Homo sapiens: one gene and its partners. The protein of the gene in region 3 purifies or fractionates together with the protein of the main gene of each other region. This does not show direct contact. Each region holds a gene or a part of one and is shown on either strand. Other genes may lie near its edges.

Region 1 (7,032 bases), on a different chromosome or scaffold from region 3:
TGAACCCGGGAGGTGGAGCTTGCGGTGGGCCGAGATCGCACCACTGCACTCCAGCCTGGGCAACAGAGTTAGACTCTGTCTCAAAAAAAAAAAAAAAAATTATCTGGGTGCAGTGGCGCATACCTGCAGTCCCAGACCTGCAAACCGTGAGCAGGAAATAACGACATGCACTTCTGTAAATATCACCTGCAACTGCACCTGCACTTATGTGAGTTTACAGATCTTAGACCTTGTACAATGGAATTCTGCAATCAGATATTTATCGAAGGAACAAATAATTAACTCATTAGCACAGAGGCTCAATGCCAGAAAAGCAAGGGGAACGTTAGAAGTACAGACCGACTGGGCCAGGCACGGTGGCTCACGCACATAATCCCAGCACTTTGGGAGGCCGAGGCGGGCGGATCATGAGGTCAGGAGATCAAGACCATCCTGGCTAACACAGTGAAACCCCATCTCTACTAAAAATACAAAAAATTAGCCGGGCGTGGTGGCGGGCGCCTGTAGTCTCAGCTACCCGGGAGGCTGAGGCAGGAGAATGGCGTGAACCCGGGAGGCGGAGCTTGCAGTGAGCCAAGATCGTGCCACTGCACTCCAGCCTGGGTGACAGAGCAAGACTCTATCTCAAAAAAAAAAAAAAAAAAAAAAGTGCAGACCGACTGAAGACCACAGGAGTGGCGTGAACCAGCTCTGCAGCGAGACCTTCCCGTGGACACGCCGTTCCTCTCCTCAACCCTGAAGACTCAGGTCTACCCTTCTTTCTCAAAACCAAAATGTCCCCCAAAAAGCTTCACAGATTCTGCCAAATCCCTTAGCTCGGTCTCAAAAACAAGCAGCTACATGTTTCAGGTTTCACGGTTTTCGAGTGTCTCCCTAGAAAATCCAACTTGAGGAAAGAGAAAGATGCTGGCTTAAATGTGGAGGATCCCTTGTTTTTTCACAGACACCTGCTTTTTAAGGTGAATGGAGGAATAAAGTCCTCTTATGTGAACCACTTAACCCACCCAGATTATAAAGTCCGTAACCTCTGGACACCAGGGTTCCACTCCCACCCCTGCTCCTTCCTAGTCACGTGATTCCCTGACCCAGGTCAAGCGGGAAGATGCGAATATGAGCCTCGACAGCAAGGGCACTGCCTGGAGCCAAGCCCGGCCTGTGCTGAGTCGTCCAAGCCGTGCCTGTGAGGCTGCTTCCTCACCCAGCAGCTCACTCTGAAAGAAAGGCCTTTCTGCCCAGGGCACCAGCCCTACAAGGCACTTCTGCTTCACCCCACTCGCGAAAAGCCCCTTTTTGATAAAAATGTGCCTTCAACTCCCAGTCTTTTATGAGGTGACAGGGCGGACCACCTCTGACCTCTGTCCAAAAGGGAAACGGCAGTTCAAATCAATTAGTCCATCTCCTGCAGGCCAGAAAAGGGAGAGCATTCTCTTACCTTTTTGGGATCCATGTTGAATTTCTTTCTTCCCATGGCTATCTGTTTGTTCCTCTGAGTCGTTTTGCTATTGGTGTGAAATAATTTAAAAATCACTCATGCTGTTTTCACAATGCAGCCCAGTCACGGCCCTCCAGTGTACTTTCCCCCGCAACAACGGGCTCAAGGAAGCGAAGCACAGGCCCTCACGGAGGGGCCCCCAGTCTCCGCAGTGGCGGCAGGGGTGGTGCAGCCACCATTGCTGTTCACATTTGATAACTTGAGACACTTCAGAAAAAGCTAATGATGCAAACCAGTGATTTTAATAAAGCACAGTTCCTTATGACGCAGGCAGGTAATTTCTGTGCGGGTCAACCCTGAAGTGCCTGTGCTTATGCCTGAACCTATAAAGGCAGATGATGACTTACAGAGGAGGCAATGGGAGGTAACATCCAGGGAAACACCCCTGGACCCCTCCACGCAGAGTAGGGGGAGAGGAGAGGAATTAACAACTCCACAGGCTCCCCACATCCCAACCACTCTCACCCCACTTTCTGCAAGTTTGACTACAGGATGGAGGTAGAAAGAAAAGAGTAAATAGCTTAAAGGTGTAGCCACAAATTGTTACCTCTCCTCTACGGAAGTTAGATTGTCGATCTCTGTCATCACCTCTGCAATTTCATATTTCAGCCTCTGTCAAAAAAGAAGAATTTCGAGGTGGGGAGTGGGTCTTAACCTTCCTCCCCTGAGACTCAGAAATTTTAGTTCTCTTGTGACAAGCTTCCCTGCGGTCTCACCGGAGCATCACAGGGATGGAAAAACCAATACTATTATCAATACAGCTAGAGCTTCATAGTCAAAGCCACCACAACTTAGGAGAACACAAAATTCTTTGCTCACTTTTCATCAGATACCAGGTTCAGAGGGGTCCACTCTGCAGATCCTAGGGTATTTGTATATAAAATCAGGCAAGCACACTGGGGGGGGAATATCACAGCTGTGAAAAGATAAAACCAAGCCAGGAGCAGTGGCTCATGCCTGTAATCCCAGCATTTTGGGAGGTTGAAGCAGAGGGATCGCTTGAGATCAGGAGTTTGAGAACAGCCTGGGCAATGTAGCAAGGCCTCATTGCTACAAAAAAGAAAAACAGAAAAATTAGCTGAGTGTGGTGGTACATGCCTGTAGTCCTAGCTACTAGAGAGGCTGAGGAGGGAGGACTGCATGAACCCACGAGTTTGAGGCTGCAGTGAGCCATGATCACACCACTGTACTCCAGTCTGGGTGACAGAGCAAGACTTGGTCTCTTTTTTTAAAAAAAACAAAAAAACAAAAAAAAAAAGCCCAGCAAAAGGAAAGCCATGAGTCCTCAGTTCGCTTAACTGCACTATTCAGCCCTGCCATGCAAACAGTTGTCACCTGCCTCCTCCTTCAACACTGCCTGTGTTCCCAGGGAGAAGCTGAGGCTCGGGTGTGTTTAGATCGGTGGTCTCAGGCTGAAGCTCAGGTGTGTTTAGGTCAGTGGTCTCAGGATCACTTGTATCACCTTGAATGAGATGAAGCACCATGGACAGAGCCCGGGGGTGAACAGAACTGACTCAGGGCACTCAGAGAAGCCAAATGCATCCAAGGGGACAGACCCCCTTTCCCTTGATGTGACCCCTACTAATGAGACTGACCTCTGGAAGCCTCCAACTTCCCTGGGCCTCAGTGTGCTCACTGATAAAATGAAGTAGTTAGAGCTAGATTACGATTCCACATTTATCCAGCAGGCTGATTACTAAGGTCCAAATAATATACATCCTTATTCTTCAACCAGAGACCAATTCTGGGTTATCTGATTTTCCCAAGAATGAAGGGTAACCTTAGAAGAAAAATTTCCATGAATTACCTTTCAAATACAAAGACATTTTTATTCAGGACCCTATTATATGCCAAGACACTCGGACTTAAAACGCAAACTCCTAGAAAGGAGCTATTGTCTGGGACAAGGCCTGTCCTTGCCGTGGCCTGTGAAGCCACATTTATTTTGGCAATGACAATGACTAGAAAGCTTCTCAAAGAAGACCTCCATGTCTGATTGACTTTCCCAAGGAAGCCCCAAACGGAAGGAGCCAGGGCCGGCCCTCTGAATCACTTCTGTAACAATCACAGGCTCTCCCACGCCGAGACGGTGGCTTTATTCACATGCTTCTCCTGTGGGACCGCCCTCTACCCCATCCTCTGAGTAAAGTACACAAGTGTGGAAGAGCCCATGTTTGTGTGCCTGTGTTTTTATTTGTCTTTACTTTTTCTTTTTTTTAGACAGGGTCTTGCTCTGTTGCCCAGTCCGCAGTACACTGGCACAATCACAGTTCACTGTAGCCTCAGCTTCTTGGGCTCAGGTGATCCTCCCACCTCAGCCTCCCGAGTATCTGGGACTACAGGTACAAAACTTAGCTGGGCATGGTGGCGTGCATTTTTTGTAGAGATGGGGTTTGACCATGTTGCCCAGGCTGGTCTTGAACTCCTGGGCTCAAGAGATCCTCCTGCCTTGGCCTCCCAAAGTGCTGGGATAACAGGTGTGAGCCGCTGTGCCCGGCCTAATGTGTCATCCTACTCCTACCACCTGGTAGGCACTTGGTACACAGCTGGAACCCAATACATGCCCACATATTCACTCAAAGGGCATCTGAGAGCCAAAAATGGAACAGGCAATGTTCTAGGTGCTAGAACATTAACATATTGGTGGCTGGGCGCAGTGGCTCACGTCTGTGATCCCAGCACTTTGGGAGGCTGAGGTGAGCGGATCACGAGGTCAGGAGATCAAGACCAATCTGCCTAACACAGTGAAACCCTGTCTCTACTAAAAATACAAAAAATTAGCTGGGTGTGGTGGTGGGTGCCTGTAATCTCAGATACTCAGGAGACTGAGGCAGGAGAATGGCGTGAACCCAGGAGGCAAAGGATGCAGTGAGCCCAGATTGTGCCACTGCACTCCAGCCTGGGCAACAGAGCGAGACTCTGTCTCAAAAAAGCAAAAAGAAAAAAACAAACAAAAAAACATATTAGTTAACGAAAGAGGGTCTCAGTGCACAATTTGACAGAGCAATGCGCTCGTGGCTTGCTGCTGCTTTAGATGATACGCTGCCTGTGGCCCTGGGTTTGCGAGCTGGCTACTGCTGACCTCAGTTCTACGATGTCTTGATTTCTACCCGGGGTCTCACTGCCTGTGTGGAGTCTTTGCTTTCCCAACTTGATAACTTTTCACTCTGTCTCTTTGTGTAGTTCTTATATGCACACACTAAACATCTTTTTTTTTTGTTATTTTTTGTTTTTGGGTTTTTTTTTTTTTTTACATTTTTGTGAGGCTACTCTTTTACTATTTTACTCAAAAGCAAAAAACAGAGTTTTGGATTTTTGGTTTTTTTTTTTTTTTTTTACCTCAATGTCATCAATAAGTTCCTTTTTTCTTCGACGAATGTCTAGAAGTTCTTCTCTCTCTTCTAATGAGAGGTCTTCAGGCACTGAAAGAAGAAAAAAATAATTAACTACTTTGGAGAACACATTGGCAACATCCAGCAAGGTTGAGGTGGGTACATGCTGCCACCCAGCAATTCCATACGCAGGTATTTATCCTAAAGAAATGCTCCCATTGAGACTGTATCTGAGACACTCATAGGAGCGCTCTTTATAACCAGAAAACAGCCTAAATATTCATCAGTAAGAACACGAATAAATTGCGGTACATTCATAAAATAGAATCCCATCCAACAAAAATATTTTTTCAGGCCAGGCACGGTGGCTCATGCCTGTAATCCCAGCACTTTAGGAGGCTGAGGTGGGTGGATCACTTGAGGTCAGGAGTTTGAGACCAGCCTGGCCAACACGGTGAAACCCCATCTCTATTAAAAATACAAAAATCAGCTGGGTGTGGTGACGCATGCCTGTAATCTCAGCTACTCGGGAGGCTGAGGCAGGAGAACTGCTTGAACCCAGGAGGCGGAGGCTGCAGTGAGGCAAAATCACATCACTGCACTCCAGCCTGGGCAACAGAGGGAGATTCTGTTTCGGGAAAAAAAAAAAATTAAAAAGAATGAGCTAAGTCTATCAATATGGATGAGTCTCACAAATAAAATGATGACTATGAAAGAAGGCTAAATTCAGGCACGGTGGCTCACGTCTCTAATCCCAGCACTTTGGGACACTGAGGCAGGAGGATCGCTTGAGCCCAGGAGTTCAAGACCAGCCTGAGCAAGATGGTGAGATCCTTTCTCTACAAAAATTAAAATAAATAAATAAATAAATCAACATAGACAGCGCCCAGGAAAAGACCACAGGCCGACGAAAATATGATTCACAGCAGAGCTGACACTCAGCTCAAAAACAGACTGGACTCTTCAATAAATATGTGTGAAAACAGTTATTTATATGGAAAAAATAAAAGCAGATTGTATGTTATCAATCACACATATTTTCAATCAATTACAAGTGGATTAAAAGTATAAATGTGAAGGGGAAACGCTACACAATTTTTAGAAGTAAATACAGGAGAATTTTTTTTATAATTTCAGGGTAGGGAAGGACTTTTTTTTTTTTTTTTTTTTTTGAGACAGAATCTGACTCTGTCACCCTGGCTGGAGTGCAGTGGCACAATCTTGTCTCACTGCATCCTCCGTCTCCTGGGTTCACTGCACTCAGCCAGGGAAGGACTTCTTAAACAAGATAGACAAAATATAAATCACAAAGGAAAATATTAATACATTTAATTATATCAAAGTTAAGAAACTAGGCCAGGCAAGGTGGCTCATGCCTGTATCCAAGCACTTTGGGAGGCCAAGGTGGGAGGATCACTTGAGGCCAGGAGTTCGAGACCAGCCTGGGCAATACAGTGGGACCCCCATCTGAACTAAAGAAAATGAAAAATAGCCAGGCATGGTGGTGCATGCCTGTGGGCCCAGTCACTTTGGGAGCCTGAGGTGGGAGGATCACTTCAGCCCAGGAGTTTGAGGCTGCAGTGAGCTATGATCATGACTGTGAGGCTGACTGTGCCACTGCACTCCAGTCTGGGCAACACAGAATCTGTGTCTCAAAAAAAAATTAATAAATAAAAACTTTATTCTCCAAAAGTTCCACACCACAGAGTGAAGAAGAGCTGAGCCAGAAACTGCCAAAGAATTCGGATTCAAAATATGTAACTCCTACAAATTATATTATTGTTTTTTGTAGAGACAGGATCTCACTCTGCTGGCCAGGATCTCACTGCAGTGAAATGCTGCAATGGCTCACTGTAGCCTTGAACTCCTGGGCTCAAGCAATCCTCCCACCTCAGCCTCCCAAGTAGCTAGGATTACAGACATGCGCCACCATGTCTGGCTAATTTTTTTTTTTTTAAATTTAAAGACAGGGTCTTGCTATGTTGCCCAGGCTGGCCTTGAACACCTGGCCTGAAGCAAAACTCCTACCTTGGCCTCCTAAAGCACAGGGATTACAGATGTGAGCCACTGTGCCCAGCCACAAGTCAATTTTTTTTTTTTTTTTTTTTTGAGACAGAGTCTCGCTCTGTCGCCAGGCTGGAGTGCGGTGGCACGATCTCAGCTCACTGCAACCTCCACCTCCTGAGTTCAAGTGATTCTCCTGCCTCA
Region 2 (4,745 bases), on a different chromosome or scaffold from region 3:
TTTATCAGTATTGGCTCATCAGTGATAACAAATGCACCACCATTGCACGATGTTAGTAATAGGGGAAATGGGCGAGATATGGAGACTGTCTACTTAATTCCCACTTTTTTTTTCTGTAAACCTAACTGCTAAAAAAAAAATCGGTCTATTAAAAACAAAACAAAAACATGCCAAGTGAAGAGCCTCCATGTAGTGGGAGCCGCCGACGTTCCTCGCTTTTACGCCCCATCGTCACCCGATCCTTGTTTATGCACCTGGCCTGGGGACTCGGAGCCTCTGGAGCTGGGCTCGCGTCCTAGCCGTCCCCAAAGCGCCGGCCCACAGCGTCAGCCCCTGGCTTTTCCCCGCCCAGAGCTCCCGGCGCGGGCCCGAGCCACGGATTTATGAGGCCACAGCGCCCCCTGCGGGCCCCGCTCAACCGCCGGGAGCCCAGACCACGCGGGACTCCCTGGCTGCGCCACGCCTGCGCCCCGTGCTCGTCCTGCACGCGATGTCCAGCTTGTCACAGGTAACGACACGGAACAGCTCGAACGCTCGTGACTTTATTGCAGAAAAGCCCCGCAGTGCTGGAGCGCAGCCTAGGCTGGGGCTGCCCCTGCTGGCGTCCGCGGGACCCAGTCTGGCTTCTGTAGCGGGGCAGGGCGGGGTCCACGCAGGGCGCAGAGGCGGGGACGCGGCCAGCACGGGGGGTGCCCAGCACGGGGGCCTTACTTGATGACAGTCGCTTACCAGTCCTGAACACCTTACTGGGGCTTAGTACTCCGGATGACCGTGCGAGGTCACTGTTACAGCCCTCTACAAATGAAGCGGCACAGAGAGGCCGCGTAACTCGCCCGGGGGTGCAGTCGGTGAAGGAGTCCGTCCGGGGACCCCCTGCGAAGCTGCCTCTGCCCACTGGATTCCGGGTCTGAGAAAAGGGCACAGGCGACACCCCGCCTTCGCGGCCCGTCTGGGATGGCACGGAAGTCGGGGTCGTCCGCGCAGAGGTGGGCACGGGGCGCAGGCGGGCGCGGCCGGCTAGGGCTGCAGCTCGTACTGCCGCTCGGTGGCCGTGTAGAAGTCCTCCAGCACCGACTGCAGGAACTCGAAGGTGGGCCGCTCCTCGGGCCGGCTGCGCCAGCACTCGGCGATGACGCCGCGGTACAGCTCGGGCGGGCAGGTGTCGGGGCGCGGCATGCGGTAGCCGCGCTCCAGGTTGCGGATGACCTCGGGGTTGCTCATCCCTGCGGCAGAGGAGACCGCAAGCGGGGGTGAGGGGCTGGGGTCCTCGGTGGGTGGGGGGCCCTGAGCGTCCCGCGGGGCACAGTGGGCCCAGGCAAGGGACAGCAGTGCCCACAGTCCCAGACCACTTCTCCAGCCTCGTGCGTTGCCTGGCTGCCCGGTCTCTAAACAGCCCTTTATTTACTTTTTATTGCCTGGGGAATGCCTAGAAATGAGGCTGTAGATTTTCTCCTGAGTACGGGGCAGGTCCTCTGAAGATGGGACCCTCCCTCTCTTGATTACCTGTGACCACCAGGGGCACAGCCAAGCCCATCACTCATGGGCAGCTGCCAGGTGCACACAGCAGCAGGTGACCCGGAGCCTGCCCACCTGTGGGGGCCAAGTGGCTGGAGCCCTTCGACTGGGGCTGGGGGCTGTCGTCCACGATTCTGGCCACACAGGAAGGGGCTTTGGGGAATCCACTATGGGTGCAAAGCCAAGGTAGGCACAACCTGTCCTCAACTGAGAACAAGCCACTGGGAGTAAACTTGAGTTCGGATGTGCCCTTTGTCTTGATTTCAGTTTGAGGGACTCATTTGACCTCTGCTGGAGGAAGGAGACACAGCCCTGTGGCCCAGAGCAATAGTGATGCAGGGGGCAGAGCTCCACCCCAGATGCCATGCCTGGGTCTCCGTCTTCGCTCTGGGACTCACTCTGAAAAGAACAGGGCAGCCACAGGCACCAAGCACAGGCGACCTGCCATCAGGGCCGGCCGGGAAAGCAGGGAGCCGCGAGCTGCGGGGTGAGCCACCTACCTGGGTATGGCACCCGCCCATAAGTGACAACTTCCATCAGGAGGACTCCAAACGACCACACGTCTGCTTTGATGGTGAAGACCCCGAAGTGGATGGCTTCCGGGGCTGTCCACTTGATGGGGAACTTGGCCCCTGTGGGAAAAGCCATGCAAGCTTTGGGAGGCCACGGCCGGTGGCCCCTACCCTCCATCCTCACCCCTACCCCTGCTCCTGCTGTCCTTCCATCAAGCCCCCACTGCGGGGCCTCACAGGGCGGGGCGGCCAGGCATGGCGGGGGAGCCACTACCGCACACCAGGACACATGACCAGGTGAGTGCAGACACGACATCAGCAGCACAGAAAGACGATATGGACACCAATACCACACAGTCACCCACTTTGGTTCTTTAAAAAGAGAGCGATGGCCTCAATGGGCAGCCACCACGTTTCCACCTGGGATGGAAGGGGCCTGTTTCACCTTACAGGGGCCTTGTTTAATTTAAAAGACATGGCCTGGGCAAGCCATTTAAACCTGCGGGCGCCTCCGTTAGTCCCTTCCTGCAAAATGGAAATGGTGACACTTGTACCTCCGAGGGCCGCTATGAGGAAGAACTCACATCCGGCTGCCCTGTGAAGCACCTCAATGGCTGCAGCCCCGGCCAGCATTTGGAGCAGACCTCAGGGCTTGGCACTTCACAGCCTCCCCTGGCCTCCATTTCTCGGTCTCCCCAGCCAGCCTGAAGTTCCCGAGAGAACAAGCCATATCCTGTCTGCTTGTCATCTGACTCATAGGCTCAGCAGACACTGCTTGCTAGCTTGATAAATATATGTGACCCCTTCAGATTCTCTTGTGACGTAGATTTCCACCTCAGTTATATGCACAGAGTAAAACAGTGCTCCGTGGACACCCTAATACAGGTTGGTTTGCTGATCGCACATGAGAGCTGTGTTTCCCACAGTGTGCTCTGTGAAAGCCTAATTCCATGGAAGGTTAATAGGGACTATATAAAAATAGTATTTGGGCATGGCTTACACCTGTCATCCCAGCGCTTTGGGAGGTCAAGGCAGGCAGATCACCTAAATTCAGGAGTTCGAGACCAGCCTGGCCAACATGGTGAAACCCCATCTCTACTAAACATACAAAAATTAGCCAGGTGTAGTGGCACACGCCTGTAATCCCAACTACTTGGGAGGCTGAGGCAGAAGAATTGCTTGAACCCAGGAGGCGGAGGTTGCAGTGAGCCAAGATTGTGCCACTGCACTCCAGCCTGGGTGACAGAGACTCCATCTCAAAAAAAAAAAAAATAGTATTTGGAGCTCAAATTAGTTTGGGAGGCACTAGGTGAGGCAAACATAAACTGTTTCTTTGCTGCAGGACTTCTCAGTGCCTTTAATATGTTGATGTGCACTGGGAATCTCCAAGACAGGGAGTAGGGTGGACTGCTGTTTCTCCAAACCTACCTTATCCTAAAGCTGTTCCTCCATGGGAGGTCTCAGGGCACTACCATTCTGCTGAACACATTTGGGTAAATGAAGGAAATGCTGATCTAGAGCTGTAGAAACCGTATAGCCCTCAGGTGTCTTCCCTCAGGGCTGTGCTGGGAGAAGTTAAAGGCGGCTTTGAGGAGCTGGGAAAGATAAGGCCCTAGGTTTCCCTTGTGGTTAGGGGCTGTGCTTACCCTCTTGGGCCGTGTATTCACTGTCGATGATTCGAGCCAAGCCAAAATCAGCAATTTTGCAGCACAAGGCCTCAGACACCAGGATGTTGGCCGCCCGCAGGTCGCGGTGGATGGAATTCATGCGCTCAATGTATGCCATCCCTTCAGCAATCTGAGGGAACAGGCACATGGTGAAGGACAGCCTGGGGGCCTCCACGCCAAGACCGAGCCCACACTGTGTCCCCCGCACAGCCCCTGTGGGCTGCTGGGGAAGGAGCTGTTTCTTGGATGGAGTAGAAAGGTGACTGTGTTGCTCCTCAGCCGAATAAACTCCTCTCCTAGAAGCCCAGAACAGCAACGCAGCAACGTGGGCATCAGAGACACAGGGGCTACCTGTGCCCCTCCCCCTCCTCGTTCTCGCTCCACACAGCTGTGTCCAAGGGTCTGCAGAGATGGAAGATAGAAGAACACAGGCAGGAGAAAAGGAGAGGGAGGGAGAAGAGAAGAAATGGTAAGGAAGGAGGGGGAGGGGGAGCAGGAGGCAAGGACAGGCAGCTCTCACTGGCTGGCTGGAAGCACAGCTCCTGGAGCTGGAGGCCCTCGGGAAGTCGCTGACCTCTAGCAAGCTGCTTAACCTCCCCGAGGGGCCACAGTCCTGACATGGAACATGAGGGATGTGGTCTCCAGGGCAGGGGGTTGAGGCAAGCATTAGACGAGGTTGATTTGTGACCAAGAACCTCACCCAGCGCCTGCCCCGTGGGGGCACCCAGGGAGCACTGGCAGATCCAGGTGGACAGAGGCTGTGAAGAAGAAGAGACTTGTCTCTCCTCCCCTGATCACCAGCCTGGGCCAGGGATAGCAGCTGGTGCTACTTGGCACCTTTTAGCTGAGGAAACTAAGGCTTTATTCACCCAATCAATGGACGAAGAAACTGAGGCAGAAAGCAGAGACCCCATTTACCTCTTCAGACATGCGACTTCAAGAAGCCAGCACTAGAATTGATTCCACTTCTCCTTATGCTTGCATTTTGTTGGTTTATCTATGAATCCATCCATCTATCCATGCATCCATCCATCCATGCATCCATCCATCC
Region 3 (7,032 bases):
GGTATCAGCTAGGTCTTAGATAAGAGAGTGAAATACATTTTACAGATGTGTACTTGATATATTTGCATGTGTTTTGTATAATCATATTGTTATACTGTGTATCAGATTTTAAGTATTTACTTTGGCATTCAAGAGACACTCGAAAGACTATACATCTGTGTATATAGAATGCATATATTCATGGATAGCTCCTGGTATGTTTTGCAACTAGAGTTCATATTGTACATAATGAGCAATTTGTAGCTTTTTTTCCTAATGACAATGCTTTATAATTGTTATTTGAAACACTTGAGAACATTTGGCTCTACTTGCAGATTGCCTCATGCTGTAGGAAATTTTTAAGTCTTTATAAGTTTCAGCATAATTGCCTAAGAATTTCATTGCTTATTAGCTGTCTGCTTTTTCATGAGCACATTTGTAAAATGGGTGAGGTAGGTCAAATGAAGTCTAACCCAATTAAGTGCAACAGTAGTAGCTTAAGCATTTCTGTTTTTTTTTTCCATAGTACGTTTGCATGTCTTTTGGATGTGTTTTGCATAATCATATTCTTACACTCTATATCAGATTTTAGATCTTAGCTTTACTGCTGCTTTCAGAAAACTCTGGTGTGATATCAGCCCCACAATTGGAAAGTCAGTGTTTATTTTAAGATTAGGAACAGGAAACTGCTAAGAAAAACATGTTTTATGAGTAAAGAAACAAAATGGAACTTTAGCTGCAATGAAGACAGAGAAGGCACTTTGAAAAGAGGATCACTTCTACTTTCCTAACTCCTGTACTTTTAAATTTGGAGGAATCTGTAATTCACCACAGTAACTGGTGAAATCTATAGGTTTTAGAAGCATAGTGCTCCCTCTTACTCCCCGGTCATATGAACTACTCCCTATTCTGTTGTAGAGACACTGCTTTTTGTCACTGCTTCTTTTTAAAGGAAAATTATCCTCAAGGATGTGCAGCAGTGGCTACTGAAAACTGGATAAACGACTACTCACCTTTCTTTATTTTTCTTATACTGCCATAATAATGTCACTACTTTCTTAAGTTTTTCTCCCATACCATAAACACTTATTCTCCGTGGAGCAAGAGTCAAAACTATGTCAGGCCACAACACCACTGAACTTTTGTAGATCAACATGAACTAATGGCACCTCTAAATGGCAGCATGTAGGTGTTATCTCAGTGATGCAGGAACCCACACTCCTGTAAATTCCCTCTGGTATATGCTCTCCATTGTCAAATACACACCATAATCTATTCCCTAGTACTCATCAGATTTGCAGCAGTTAACAAATAGGAGACATGCTTCTGGGAACTTTTTGAAAATCAGATAGAACCTCATGTACCCATATTGTGCATGCAGTGTGAGTACATGTTTGGGATGTGGCCTACTAGAGGAATGACACTTTGGAAGAGACCAGATCCATGGTTCTCCATGGGAGCTAGTTTTATGCTGCTTATCAGAATCGTGCAGCCCAATAGGAATGCAGACTTTGGACTCATGCACACCTGAATTCATATCCTCCTAATGCCTTATGGGGTCCTTAGGAGTTTTAAATGAAATAATACATGCAATGTACCTAGTGATGTGCCTTACCAATAGAAGATCCACAAATGACAGGTGTTAGAATGAATGTCACTGGGCATGAGAAAGGACAATGAGATCTTTGTGTCTCTAAGAAATGCAGGTGATCATTGTGTCACTGATCCCTTAATGGGAGCTAGAAGACTGGGTAAGAGAAAAAAGCATCCAATTAATACTTTCTGTAGCTTTGGGGTTTCTGTTTTTTTCTATTTCTAACTACCATATTTTACACCCAATGTGAACATATATGGAGGTGCCAGCTACATAAATCAACATGTTTCTACTGCACTGTACTTACTTTGATCTCTGGGAATGGAGGGTAGAGTCTCACTGCTAATGAGAATTGTTAGAACAGTGGTTTCCCAAAGGAGTGTCAGTTGTATATTTTATTCATGTACCACATGAACTAGATCAGTCTTTCATCTCCAGAAGGGTCTAGGCTATACTGAGAAGACCCCTGGCAGGAAAGCTGTCAATGAAGTTTCTGACATAGATGGGAACATAGTGCATGATCTTTTAAAGTCCCTTCTACCTTTAAGATATGGGGATTCTAAGTGCCTTATAGATTAGATAGAAGTCCTTTAGAGGTGAACAGACCCAAGTTTCTAGAAGTTGCTTGCATGTGGCTGACTTGTGATGCCTCAGGGATTATTGAATAAGAAAGAATGAACATCAGACATCAATTTTTTCACAAGGAAGTACTACTTTAATGTAGCTTAATTTTAGGAATCAGATGTTTAAAAGACGTACTCTACTCAGAACACTGATTTTGCTTCTAAGTGGAACTAGACTTCATAATTTAAATGTGTGAAAAAAAGAAAATTATATTTGTTATAGGTCATTGGGACACTATATCTAGCAAACATTTATTCAGTGTTTTGGTATAATTAAAAATAAAAAAACCCACCACCACCAAACTACTTGTGCCTAATTGAGGCAAGAGTTGAAGCTTAACTTTTTCTAATTTAGTTGGGTGACTAATGAACCGGTGAGGATTCAGGACAGGCATACCAGAGGGTGCTCAGAAATGAAGGTAATTGAGTCAATTATAGTACTTTTGAATAAATGCAGGGCAGATTGTCATTATGTGCAGAACTCTGATTTAAAATAATCATTGTTGGCATGTCTCCTTGCTGCATGTGTACAATTTCATACTCCTATAATGAGTGTTTTAGCTTGGGAGAACCACTTAGGGATTTTTCTCATTGCACTTGGCCATCGTTGTTTTATCCCATTGGGAAATGAGAAACTCAATTTTTAAAAATAAATCGTGATAGCATCAGGTGATATCTTGGGCTTGAAAATATAAAATCTTGAGCCACTCTCATTTCACTTTCTTTCTCATGACAGATGTCTTTATGAATGGAGTTGGCTACAGATTGTCTGGTAGAATTGCAAAATTGATACCTTGATTTAGTTTATAGTGGAAATCCTTTGTCCTTTGAACTTACCTATTATACTGCTTAATGATAATTGACATCATTTTAAATTTTGGCAAATAGATGTTGAGGTTGTTAAATAGTAACTATATATCATCTTAATTTTTACAGTCTTACAGGCCCCAGAATCAGAATGCCTGCTCCTCGGAAATGTTCACTTTGATATGCAAAATACAGGAGGACAGCCCAGCTCACTGTGCTGGCCTGCAAGCTGGTAACTTAAATTTTTGCTCATGTTAGGAATCATTTAAATGGAAAGAAAATAAAATGTTTTGAGAGTGAAGGTCAGGATGTATTTGTTGCTTTGAGTTTTCTTGGCTCCTTTATGTTTTTAAGACTTGGAGCTGCTTGTTTCATTTGCATGTCAGGAGGGATTATTTAACTAACCAACATAACACTCATTTTTCTTGGCATCTCCCAGGTGATGTCCTTGCAAATATCAATGGTGTGAGCACAGAAGGTTTTACCTACAAACAAGTCGTTGACCTGATCAGATCGTCCGGAAACCTGCTAACGTAACTATCTGTCTAGTTCCCGTGGGGCTTCAAAATGTTATGTTTTCTCATAAAGCCTGATGAGTGAATAAATAGGCCTTTTGTTCAGCATTACAAGACGGAGTGAGGCAGTGCACCGGAGCTTTAGAGTGGGGTACAAACATTATCAGTTCCTTTTGTTTCTCAAGATTCCTCACACTTGAACATACTGTCAACATCTGAAGTCAGAGGACATCAATAGCCCAAACGTCTGTGTGGGAAGGATGGCCTTTACAAATGTATTTTTTTAATGTCAAATTCAATTAAACTGGCACACATTCTCTTTAAACTGGGAAGAACTGATCCAATTTTCATGGTTGATATAATCCTGTAGCTAAAACAAATCAAAGGTCAGAAGGGCTGAGTTTTTCCTCTTATGTGACAAGCCACCTGTTTTTCTCTTCTAGTGTTCCATTTGGAAGGAAGAATAGTCTGTTCAACCCTCCCCACCCTGAAACACACATACTCACACCACATGTTCCAAATGTTCCAAACTTCTTTTTTTTTTTTTTTTTTTTGAGACGGAGTCTCGCTCTGTCGCCCTGGATGGAGTGCAGTGGCGCGATCTTGGCTCACTGCAAGCTCTGCCTCCCAGGTTCACGCCATTCTCCTGCCTCAGCCTCCCTAGTAGCTGGGACTACAGGCGCCCACCACCATGCCCGGCTAATTTTTTGTATTTTTAGTAGAGACGGGGTTTCATCGTGTTAGCCAGGATGGTCTCAATCTCCTGACCTCATGATCCACCCGCCTCCGCCTCCCAAAGTGCTGGGATTACAGGCATGAGCCACCGCCCCTGGCCCCAAACTTCTTAATAGAACACTGGCTTTCCCAATTAGAGGTTTGACTGATTTTTCTACCATAACAATACTAGCACCTAATAAAATCTTATTAGGATAGTTAAATGATGAAATTCGCTCATTCATTAAAATCATATTTATTGAGCAAATACTATGTTTCCAGCTCTGTGATAGGCTCAGGAGAGACGAAGATAAAGACTCTCTTAGTACGTTAATAGTTATGGAAGGAAATGGCTCAGAAAAGCCTGAAATTTAAGTAATGTGTATATTTCAGTTATTGATAACTACTATGAGAAAAGTGCAAAACAGCAATGGCCTGTCATGCTAGGTAAGAAGGCTGCTAGTTTGGCTTAGATGTGTAAAGTGGTCTTTTCTAGGGAGGCGATATTTGAGTTGAGATCTAAATGAAGAGAAGGATGGTCAAATGAACTCCTCGTAAGAGCACTTCAGGCAAAGAGAGAGGTCTCTGAGTGCTCACAATGGGCTTGGCATGTACAAGGGAAAGAGAAAAAGACAGTATAATTGGTATTTGATGGATTAGAGAGGGTATAATAAGAAATGAAGCCAGAGAGTTGGCCTGGGGGCAGACCATGGATCTCTTTGGACATGCCAACAAGTTTGGGTTTTATTCTGATTGAGGTGGGTCATATATTGTGTCATTTATTCTTCACAGCCACCCATGAGGTTAATTTTATTCCTATTTATAGATGAAGTGCCTGAAGCTTAGAGGGGGCTTAGTTAAGGTCACATAACTGGTAAGTGATAGGGCTGGGGTTTGACCACCTGCTCTGGATGCCAGGATCTGTCCTTTTCAGCTACAGCTGCTCCTTGGAAGCTGCCAGTAGAAAATCTGCTGGATGCTTTTCAGTGATTCTGGTGTAAAACTTCAAAGGATGCTTTGGGTGTTTGTGAGAGCAGATTTGAAAGATGGTGGTGGTAACAAATTGGGTCCAACTCTATAGGTCCTGTGAGTTCAGGGTAAAGGATGAGGTGCTTTTGCTCTAGAGAACCCTGGATCCAAAGGAGAGGAACCGTGCAGAGTCTGAGGGGAACTGCTGGTAGTTAGAGTCAGAAAGCATGTTCCACATGGGTGAAGAGGGTAGACCACAGGTAAATAGGGGTTGTAGATGGAGGTAACTGTTGGAAATCCGGGAAAATGGGAGACAGTCTGTACAAATACTGAGGAAAATGGCCAAATCAATGGTTGCAGTTTTGCCCATACACATCTATTGCTTCAGCAGGTCAAACTGACATTCAATCCCAATGAAACAGATTCATATGGATTCCCACTATTTCTCAGAGAGTCAAGATCACCTTAAGGAGAAAACAGACAGTATATAGCTTGCTACCACCTGATTATTCCTGGCATGATGCTATTAGAAGTAGAAGACTGATCTCCACATTTAATGCTTTTACCATGCCTTGAAAAATTCCTTGCATCTTTATAGAGAGGTACAGCTTAATTACAAGAAGGAACTTGAACCAACACTTTAAAAATTGGTGTGTGATTCACAAATGAAATTTTTAAATCATATTCAGATTGATGGTTTAGTAGTCAAAATAAAAGCCTTTAACTTGAACACACAGAACAAATCAAATCACTCAGAATAGAACAAGTATTTTATTTTTAGAAATGTGTGTGGTGTGGGAAGAACAGAACACTGGTAAGTTGATAATTCTAGGATTAGAGTTTGTAAACTGAATGTTTTGAGATAAAGAATCATATGAAGGTTATTATGTCATAGTAGTTGTACTTCTGTTTCTTCTAGTACCAAAATTATAAGGAGATTTACAGAGGTAAAGGCTCCTAGAATCCTATGGAGGAAAGGATTTCTCCCTCTTTCAAGAAGTAGCATGTTAATTCCATGGTTGTGAAAGCCCCTAGAGCCTATTATTTCTGTTGTTGTGCCCCTTGTGTTCAGCATGGTTTCTAGAATCTGGTACATAGTAGATGCCCAATAAATATTTACCAAATGAGTGAGGTCATTCAGCCCATCCCCACAAGAACAGATTCTAGTAGAGAGCAGCCATCATTGTCACATAGTGACTTCTATAAAATAAGCTATAGTTTACAAATTAACTAGGATCCTTTCTTTTAGCCACCTTCTCAAGGGGAGTTTTCCCCCATTTTCTTTCTCTGTTATCAGAAGATTTGGCTTTGGTCCAGCTACTCGAAGTGCCATGAGAACTGTAACATTTGTATTTCGTTTTTAGTATAGTATGTGCTCAAAGTGTAGTACTCTGTAGTATGGTACTTATTTAAACGAATCACTCATGTTACTCACTCCCCACCTTCCTCTTCTTTTTTTTTTCCTTAAAACAGGATAGAGACTCTTAATGGAACAATGATTCTGAAAAGAACGGAGCTTGAAGCAAAGCTGCAGGTTTTAAAGGTAATTTAATTTAATGCAGTGAGGCACATTTTTCATCCTTGAATGTGTGAGTGGTAAAATAAAGATCTATTTGAGGAACTGAGATAGCCCTTGAAAAAGAAATGTCGTGGTGAATCTAAACTGCTGAATTATCAAGAGCCGCACAATTACCTTTGGAGGAATATCAAATTCTGCAAACCAGTGTAAATCACTTTCTTCCTTCCTCCTTCTGTGTGTCTATGAGGCTCAGAAAGGCAACAGGAAGGCATGCCACTTGAAGAACTCTTCATTAGTGCACCTGTGATCTCT
Region 4 (7,032 bases), on a different chromosome or scaffold from region 3:
CCCACCTTGGCCTCCCAAAGTGCTGGGATTACAGATGTGAGCCACTGCGACTGGCCCCATATGCTCTTTCAAATCAGGAAATGAGTGAGAAGGAAAAGGCCAAGGTTGACTCCTTTTGAGCTCCTGCCATCAGGATTTCAGAAGTGTAGGCAAGCTTCCTAAGTCCATGGGTCAGATAAATTATGCTTACGTGTATGGAATGTTAGAACTTTGGGGCGGACCTTAGGAATTACCTAGTCTCTTCCACCTCCCCATTTGCAGCTCAGAATCAAGCAAAGGACTATATTTGAGACACTCTCATAGGTTCCTTTCTAGCCCTAATGTCATTTGATTCACTTCAGGGAAGCTGAAAATTGTGAGGAGGGAAAGAAAAAGAGGGACAAAGGAAGGAAGCTTAGTCAGCACACATAGTCATCCCCCACCCCAAAACAGGCTATGAGCCCATTGTCTTAGACACTTCCCACTTTCCCACCTGAATTGCCTTTTAGCCATGGGACAGGCCTTCTGGTTATCCTGCCTTCCTCTACCCCATTTCCTTCCTCTTCTAACTCAAGTGATTATCGTAGGAGGTGTAGAGGGGACCAGGAGAGGGAATAAAGAGCAAATTCATCAACTTTTGACTCCTTAGAGGCCACTGTTATTGATGTTTCTCATGCATTTGTTCTCATGGCATGTTTTTAAAACAGGAAACTTGGTTGGGCATGGTGGCTCACGCCTGTAATCCCAGCACTTTGGGAGGCCAAGGCAGGTGGATCACCTGAAGTCAGGAGTTTGAGACCAGCCTGGCCAACATGGTGAAACCCCATCTCTACTAAAAATACAAAATTAGCTGGGCATGGTGGCGTGCACCTGTAATCTCAGCTACTGGGGAGGCTGAGACAGTAGAATCGCTTGAACCCGGGAGGTAGAAGTTGCAGTGAGCTGAGATCACGCCATTGCACTCCAGCCTGGGCAAAAAAGAGCAAAACTCCATCTCAAAAAAATAAATAAGTAAATTTTAAAAATAAGAAGCTCTGAGAAGGTATCGTATCTGGTGTTACCAACAGGTAAAGATTAGGGTTTGGAACTAAATGTAAGACATAGGCTTGCACAATCTTAGGGTTAGAGGGAACCTGAGAGGTGTTCTAATTGGAATTTTCCTAATATGGCCCTGTCAAGTGGTTATCTAGTTTTTGCTTAGTTACCACGAGTGACAAGGAGCTTGCTACTTAACAGAGGCAACCTGTTCCATTTGGGACAGGCTGGCAGGAAGGCATTCATGGAAAGTAAGACACTACTGGCCAGATGCAGTGGCTTATGCCTGTAATCCCAGCACTCTGGAAGCCTGAGGCAGGAGGATCATTTAAGCCCAGGGGTTCAAGATCAGCCTGGGCAACATAGCAAGACCTTGTCTCTATAAGAAATATAAATAAATTAGCCAAGAGTGGTGTTGCATGCCTGTAGTCCCATCCCAGCTACCTGGGAGGATCACTTGAGCCCAGGTGGTCGTAGCTGCAGTGAGCCATGATGGCGCCACTGCAATCCAGCCTGGGCAATGGAGTGAGACCCTGTCTCCAAAAAAAAAAAACATAAGGCACCGCTGTCAGGAATCCAGGAGTGCGTTAATCCAGTCATCCCTCCTACCCCAAAACAATGGCAAATAGGAGATAAGGACTACTCTTTCACTAAATTGGCCAGAGCCCTGTACTTTCGTATATGTCTCTCTGATCAGCAGTGTTGGAGCACAGAGCCTAGCCTAAAGGCCTCTGCAGGCTTTTACCTTCCTCTAAGTCCAAATCTGAACTTTGGGCTGTCTCCTTCCTCTAGAGCAGGGATTCCCCAACCCCCAGGCCGTGGACCGGTACAAGTCCATGGCCTGTTAGAAACCAGGCCACACAGCAGGAGGTGAGCTGCGTGTGAGCAAGCAAAGCTTCATCTATATTTATAGCTGCTCCTCATCGCTCACATTGCTGCCTGAGCTCCGCCTCTTGTCTTATCCGTGGTGGCATTAGACGTTCATAGGAGCACAAACCCTATTGTGAACTGCATATGTGAGGGATCTAGGTTGTGTGCTCCTTAGGAGAAGCTGATGCCTGATGATCTGTCACTGTCATCCATCAACCCCAGATAGGGCTGTCTAGTTGCAGGAAAACAAACTCAGGGCTCCCACTGACTCTACATTATGGTGGATTGTATAATTATTTCATTATATATTACAATGTAATAATAATATAAATAAAGTGCACAATAAATGTAATGCACATGAATTATCCCAAAACCATCTCCTACAAGCCCAGTTCATGGAAAAATTGTCTTCCATGAAACTGGTCCCTGGTGCCAAAACGGTTGGGGACCACTGCTCGACAGAGTTGGTCAGATGCACAGGAAAGTAAAGCAATAACTAACATGCTTAGGAGGCCCACATGTGAGGAGAGAAGCGTGATGGCTGGTCATGAGGGCACTGGCCCACCAGCTGCTAGAAGCAGAAGAGGGCTGGGTGTGGTGGCTCACGCCTGTAATCCCAGCACTTTGGGAGGCCAAGGCGGTGGATCAACTGAGGTCAGGAGTTCGAGACCAGCCTGACCAATATGGCGAAACCCTGTCTCTACTAAAAATACAAAAATTAGCCGGGCACGGTGGCATGTGCCTGTAGTCCCAGCTACTCAGGAGGCTGAGACAGGAGAATTGCTTGAACCTGGGAGGCAGAGGTTGCAGTGAGCCAAGATCATGCCATTGCACTCTAGCCTGGGTAACACAGCAAAACTCCCTCTCAAAAAAAAAAAAAAAAAAAAAAGAAGAAGCCGAAAAAAGAAGCAGAAGAGGAGGCCTCCCATGAGGGCACTGTCTTTTCTGCCTTTGAACACACAGAATGTGTTCATCTAGTAATGAATGTACCCTAGTCTGTGCCTTAGAATATGAGCAATTAGATTAGCAATTGTCTAGAGGCCTGTGAGGAGAGGGGAGGAGGAAGTAAGAGAGAACTGGGGAGATAGGCAGAGACCTTTTCTCTAAAATAAGAACTAGAGGCTGGGTGCAGTGACTCACGCCTGTTATCTCAACACTTCAGGAAGCCAAGACTGGCGGATGACTTGAGGTCAGGAGTTTGAGACCAGCCTGGCCAACATGGCGAAACCCTGTCTCCACTAAAAATACAAAAATTAGTCAGGGCTGGTGGCGCATGCCTGTAATTCCAGCTACTTGGGAGGTTGAGGCATGAGAATCCCTTGAACCCAGGAGGCAGAGTTGCAGTGAGCGGAGATCGCACCATGGCACTCCAGCCTGGGTGACAGAGTGAGACTCTGTCACAAAAAAGTAATTAACGGAATAAAATAAGAACCAGAGTTTGCAGCAATAAGCCAAAAGGGACAGAAGCACTGATCAAGCCCAGGAGGAAACAGGACAGGAGAAGGTCAGGGGGAGATGATGGTATAGAAAGGAGACAGGGGTTCTTCTGTCTCTTAGAAAAGATGGATGAAGTAGAAAAACATACTGAGCTGAGGCCACCCTTGAAGTCAACTCTACAACAGTTCTTCAGGTATTTGAAAGCAATAAACACATTTTTTTTGGATTTCCTTATCTCTAGAATAAATATTCTCATCTGGACCCACTCCTGTTGGCTAATATTCATCTTAAGGTAGAGCTCATGTCTTAACATCAAGTTCCAGTTGTGGCATAGAATTGGGCAAGACAAAACATCACTTTTTCTGGCCACAGTGAACTGATGACTACGTCTTTGTTAGATTGACGGTTTGGTGGTTTATTTTATTTTATTTTTTTAATTTTTATTTTTTGAGATAAGGTCTCACTCTTGTCATCCAGGCTGGAGTGCCGCAGTGGCTTAATCATGGCTCACTGCAGCCTCAAACTCCTGGGCTCAAGTGATCCTCCTACCTCAGCCTCCTGAGTAGCTAGGACTACAGGTGCATGCCACACCCAGCTAATCATTTTTAATTTTTGTAGAGACAAGATCTCGCCATGTTGCCCAGGCTGGTCTCAAACTCCTGGGTTCAAACGATCCTCTCACCTTGGCCTCCCAAAGTGCTGGGATTACAGGCATGAGCCACCCACCATGCCTGGCCTGCTCTTGGATATCTCAGCCTTTTCTTTTGGTCCATCCTATCTTAGAACGAGCCTTATGATGCCAAGCTCTTACTCTTCTTTTGAGTTTTAGAATTAGGTTAGACTCTGAGTGACAGGAAAAAAAATAGTAGCTTAATTAGGATAGAAATGTATTTCTCTCTCATGTTCTGGGCTTATATGGCTCGCCATGGTGTCCTTAATCCCACCTAGCTGTTAGAATAGTTAGTGTTGGCAGCCAGGCAGCCTGTGCTTAGCTAAAGTTAGGAATCCTGCTACTAAGGAGGAAGCGGGGAACAGATATTGGGAATTAGGCAACAACCTCCGCCACCTTCTCTATGCCAGAACCTGGCCACCTTTCTCTCCCTTGTGGTGGAAGTCACTGGTCAGCCTTAATGCTGGTCTCCACTGAGCTTCAAGCTTTGGGTATACTGGCTCTGAAACTCAGCACTGGGTGAGGTATCCTGTGTTCCTGCTAGTTGGGGCCTTATGGACAAGATATGGAGGGGAGTAGTCCCTCACGGCCCTAAGAGGCCCCAGGCCATCTCTGTGCAGCCACTGAGTGAGGAGGGTCTGCTTTGGACTTTGCAGAACTTATTGAAAGCGCAATGTACCTCTACCGTGCCACGGGGGATCCCACCCTCCTAGAACTCGGAAGAGATGCTGTGGAATCCATTGAAAAAATCAGCAAGGTGGAGTGCGGATTTGCAACAGTAAGTGTTTGCATGGCCCCAAGAACTGGGAAGAGTCTCCCCTTGCTGCTAAAAAGCCTCTTTAAGGGTAGAGCTTTGGGAGTTCTGACATATCAGCACTAGAAGGGACCTTGGAGATATACATAATGCTCATATTTTACAGATGGGGAGACCAAAGAACAGAGAAGCTAAGTGCCTTGCTAAAGATCTCACAGCTAGTAGAGGTAGAGCTAGAATTAGTTCCTTGGGATCTTGACCCCGGCCCTTGGCATTCCTCCCACAGTGGAGATCTTTGATCTGTTTGAATAGGTGACTTTGAAAAGGTGAGTTTAGCGAAAAGTTTTGTGAGACACTAAAATAGATTTTAAGGGGAATCCAGAGTCCCATAGCCCTATATTCAAACCTGGGACTCCTTAACAAAGCAGTCCTGCTTAGTCTCACAGATATTTCTTGAATGTCTTTCACATGCCAGGCACTCTGCTAGGCCCAAGGGTTACAGCAGTGGCCTTGCTCTCATGGAGCTTACATTTTAATGAGAAAAAAACCATGAATGTGTATCTGGTAGACAGAAGGCCAGTGTGGCTGGAGCGGAGCAAGCAAGGAGAAAAGTGGGAAGAGATAAGGTCCCAGAGGTAGGCAGGGGCTAGATCATGTAGGGTTTTGTGTAAGCCACAGGAAAGAGTTTGGGTTTTTTTTTCTACTTGGAATGTGAACCCTTGGTAGGATTTACAGCAGAGCAGTGACATGATCTGATTTGTATTTTAGAAAGATCGCTTTGGCTGCTTTGTGAAGAATAGATTGAAAGGGTCAAAGGTGAGAGCCATCTCACATCCATGCAGGAACCAAGCAGGCAAGATATAAATATGAAAGTAGAAGAAAATAGTCTGGAAGAAAATCCCCTGAAAAGCCTACAGTGTTGGGGTATGGAATTCAAAACAACAACAAAACACTTATTTTGCAAAAGTTTGTAATGTGATTATATTCTATAAGTAAAATATAGATATGTGTAGGGGAAGAGAGAAGACCTACATGTGGAAGGGAAAAAATAAACCCCTGATATGATTTGGTTTCTAATATGCTGTATTGTGTGAAAAACCAAAATGATAAGCCCACTGGGGCCTTCCTAGGAATGCTGGGCTCATTTCCATGAACATGAAGCCCTTTGGAGGTCTTCCATGGTGAATGATGGGAACAGGGGTCTGACCTTTCTCAAACAGGGCAAGGAAATAATCATCTTGATACATCAAGACCATATTTGAGTCATATTTTTAAATGTAAGATAGAGTCCACTGAGAATGTTTTGTTTAGAAGTATTACTAATTCTGAGAAGCTAAAATAAATGTTTGTAGCAAGTAATCTTAGTCATCCATGCCTGAAAACTCAGTTGAAATTCTCTAAATAAGACTCCTTACTAAAACAATGTCAATAGTTTTCATCAACAGCAGTTGAACCTAGTAAGTGTCGATACTTTGGGTCTGAGTGGAGAAAAAAAGACCCCTTATTAGTTGCTTACAAAAACTTGGTAATTGGCCAAGCGCAGTGGCTCAGGCTTGTAATCCCGGCACTTTGGGAGGCCAAGGCAGGCGGATCACGAGGTCAGGAGTTCAAGACCAGCCTGACCAACATGGTGAAACCCTGTCTCTACTAAAAATACAAAAAAAATTACCTGGGTGTGGTGGCATGTGCCTGTAGTCCCAGCTACTCTGGAGGCTGAGGCAGGAGAATTGCTTGAACCCGGGAGGCAGAGGTTGCAGTGAGCCGAGACCATGCCATTGCACTCCAGCCTGGGCAACAGAGTGAAACTCCATCTCTAAAAAAAAAAAAACTTGGTAATCATCTGAATGCCCTTCCAAGGAGGATTAGCCAAGTAAATGGTGATCCATTTTCACGATGGAATACTCTGCCATCATTAAAAGGGACGATTAGCTCTATGTTTATAGTCACAAAAAGTTGGGATAAAGGGGATAGGAGATTGTCATGTCATAGAGCAAGGTTAGCGGAGACCTTTCTGGTGAGGAAGCATTTGAGCAGAGACCTGAAGGAAGGGAGGGAACAAGCTATGAGAAAAACTGGAGGCGGAGTGCTCCAGGCTGAAAGAACCACAGATGCAAAGAGCCCGAAGCAGGAGGGTGCTGTGCTAGCTCAGGACAGAAAGGCAGCAGCTGGAGCTCTTAGAGTGGTAAGAGGTGAGGGCAGGAAGGGAGCAGGGGCCAGGTCATGACTTGCATTTTTATCCTGCATGAAATGGAGGGCTCACAGAAAGTTGTGAGTAGAGAATTGACAG

Evidence for each region.
Region 1: the proteins of CYTIP (region 3) and CYTH3 purify together in Homo sapiens (affinity purification with mass spectrometry; 3 studies listed by BioGRID and IntAct, with this or other methods). This does not show direct contact.
Region 2: the proteins of CYTIP (region 3) and BLK purify together in Homo sapiens (affinity purification with mass spectrometry; 2 studies listed by BioGRID and IntAct, with this or other methods). This does not show direct contact.
Region 4: the proteins of CYTIP (region 3) and EDEM2 purify together in Homo sapiens (affinity purification with mass spectrometry; 3 studies listed by BioGRID and IntAct, with this or other methods). This does not show direct contact.

What each region holds. Positions count from the first base shown.
Region 1 is NC_000007.14:6,185,618-6,192,649, forward strand, and holds part of CYTH3 (cytohesin-3), read right to left. Parts: intron 4,915-7,032; coding exon 4,832-4,914; intron 2,105-4,831; coding exon 2,040-2,104; intron 1,500-2,039; coding exon 1,433-1,499; intron 1-1,432. UniProt on the Homo sapiens protein: Promotes guanine-nucleotide exchange on ARF1 and ARF6. Promotes the activation of ARF factors through replacement of GDP with GTP. Plays a role in the epithelial polarization.
Region 2 is NC_000008.11:11,560,381-11,565,125, reverse strand, and holds the end of BLK (tyrosine-protein kinase Blk), read right to left. Parts: intron 3,825-4,745; coding exon 3,674-3,824; intron 2,148-3,673; coding exon 2,016-2,147; intron 1,224-2,015; coding exon 1,018-1,223; 3' UTR 527-1,017; downstream 1-526. UniProt on the Homo sapiens protein: Non-receptor tyrosine kinase involved in B-lymphocyte development, differentiation and signaling. B-cell receptor (BCR) signaling requires a tight regulation of several protein tyrosine kinases and phosphatases, and associated coreceptors.
Region 3 is NC_000002.12:157,427,063-157,434,094, reverse strand, and holds part of CYTIP (cytohesin-interacting protein), read left to right. Parts: intron 1-3,132; coding exon 3,133-3,235; intron 3,236-3,442; coding exon 3,443-3,536; intron 3,537-6,674; coding exon 6,675-6,744; intron 6,745-7,032. UniProt on the Homo sapiens protein: By its binding to cytohesin-1 (CYTH1), it modifies activation of ARFs by CYTH1 and its precise function may be to sequester CYTH1 in the cytoplasm.
Region 4 is NC_000020.11:35,116,335-35,123,366, reverse strand, and holds part of EDEM2 (ER degradation-enhancing alpha-mannosidase-like protein 2 isoform 1 precursor), read left to right. Parts: intron 1-4,647; coding exon 4,648-4,769; intron 4,770-6,159; exon of another isoform or gene 6,160-6,231; intron 6,232-7,032. Other genes in the region: MMP24-AS1-EDEM2 (ER degradation-enhancing alpha-mannosidase-like protein 2), read left to right, coding at 4,648-4,769. UniProt on the Homo sapiens protein: Involved in the endoplasmic reticulum-associated degradation (ERAD) pathway that targets misfolded glycoproteins for degradation in an N-glycan-dependent manner.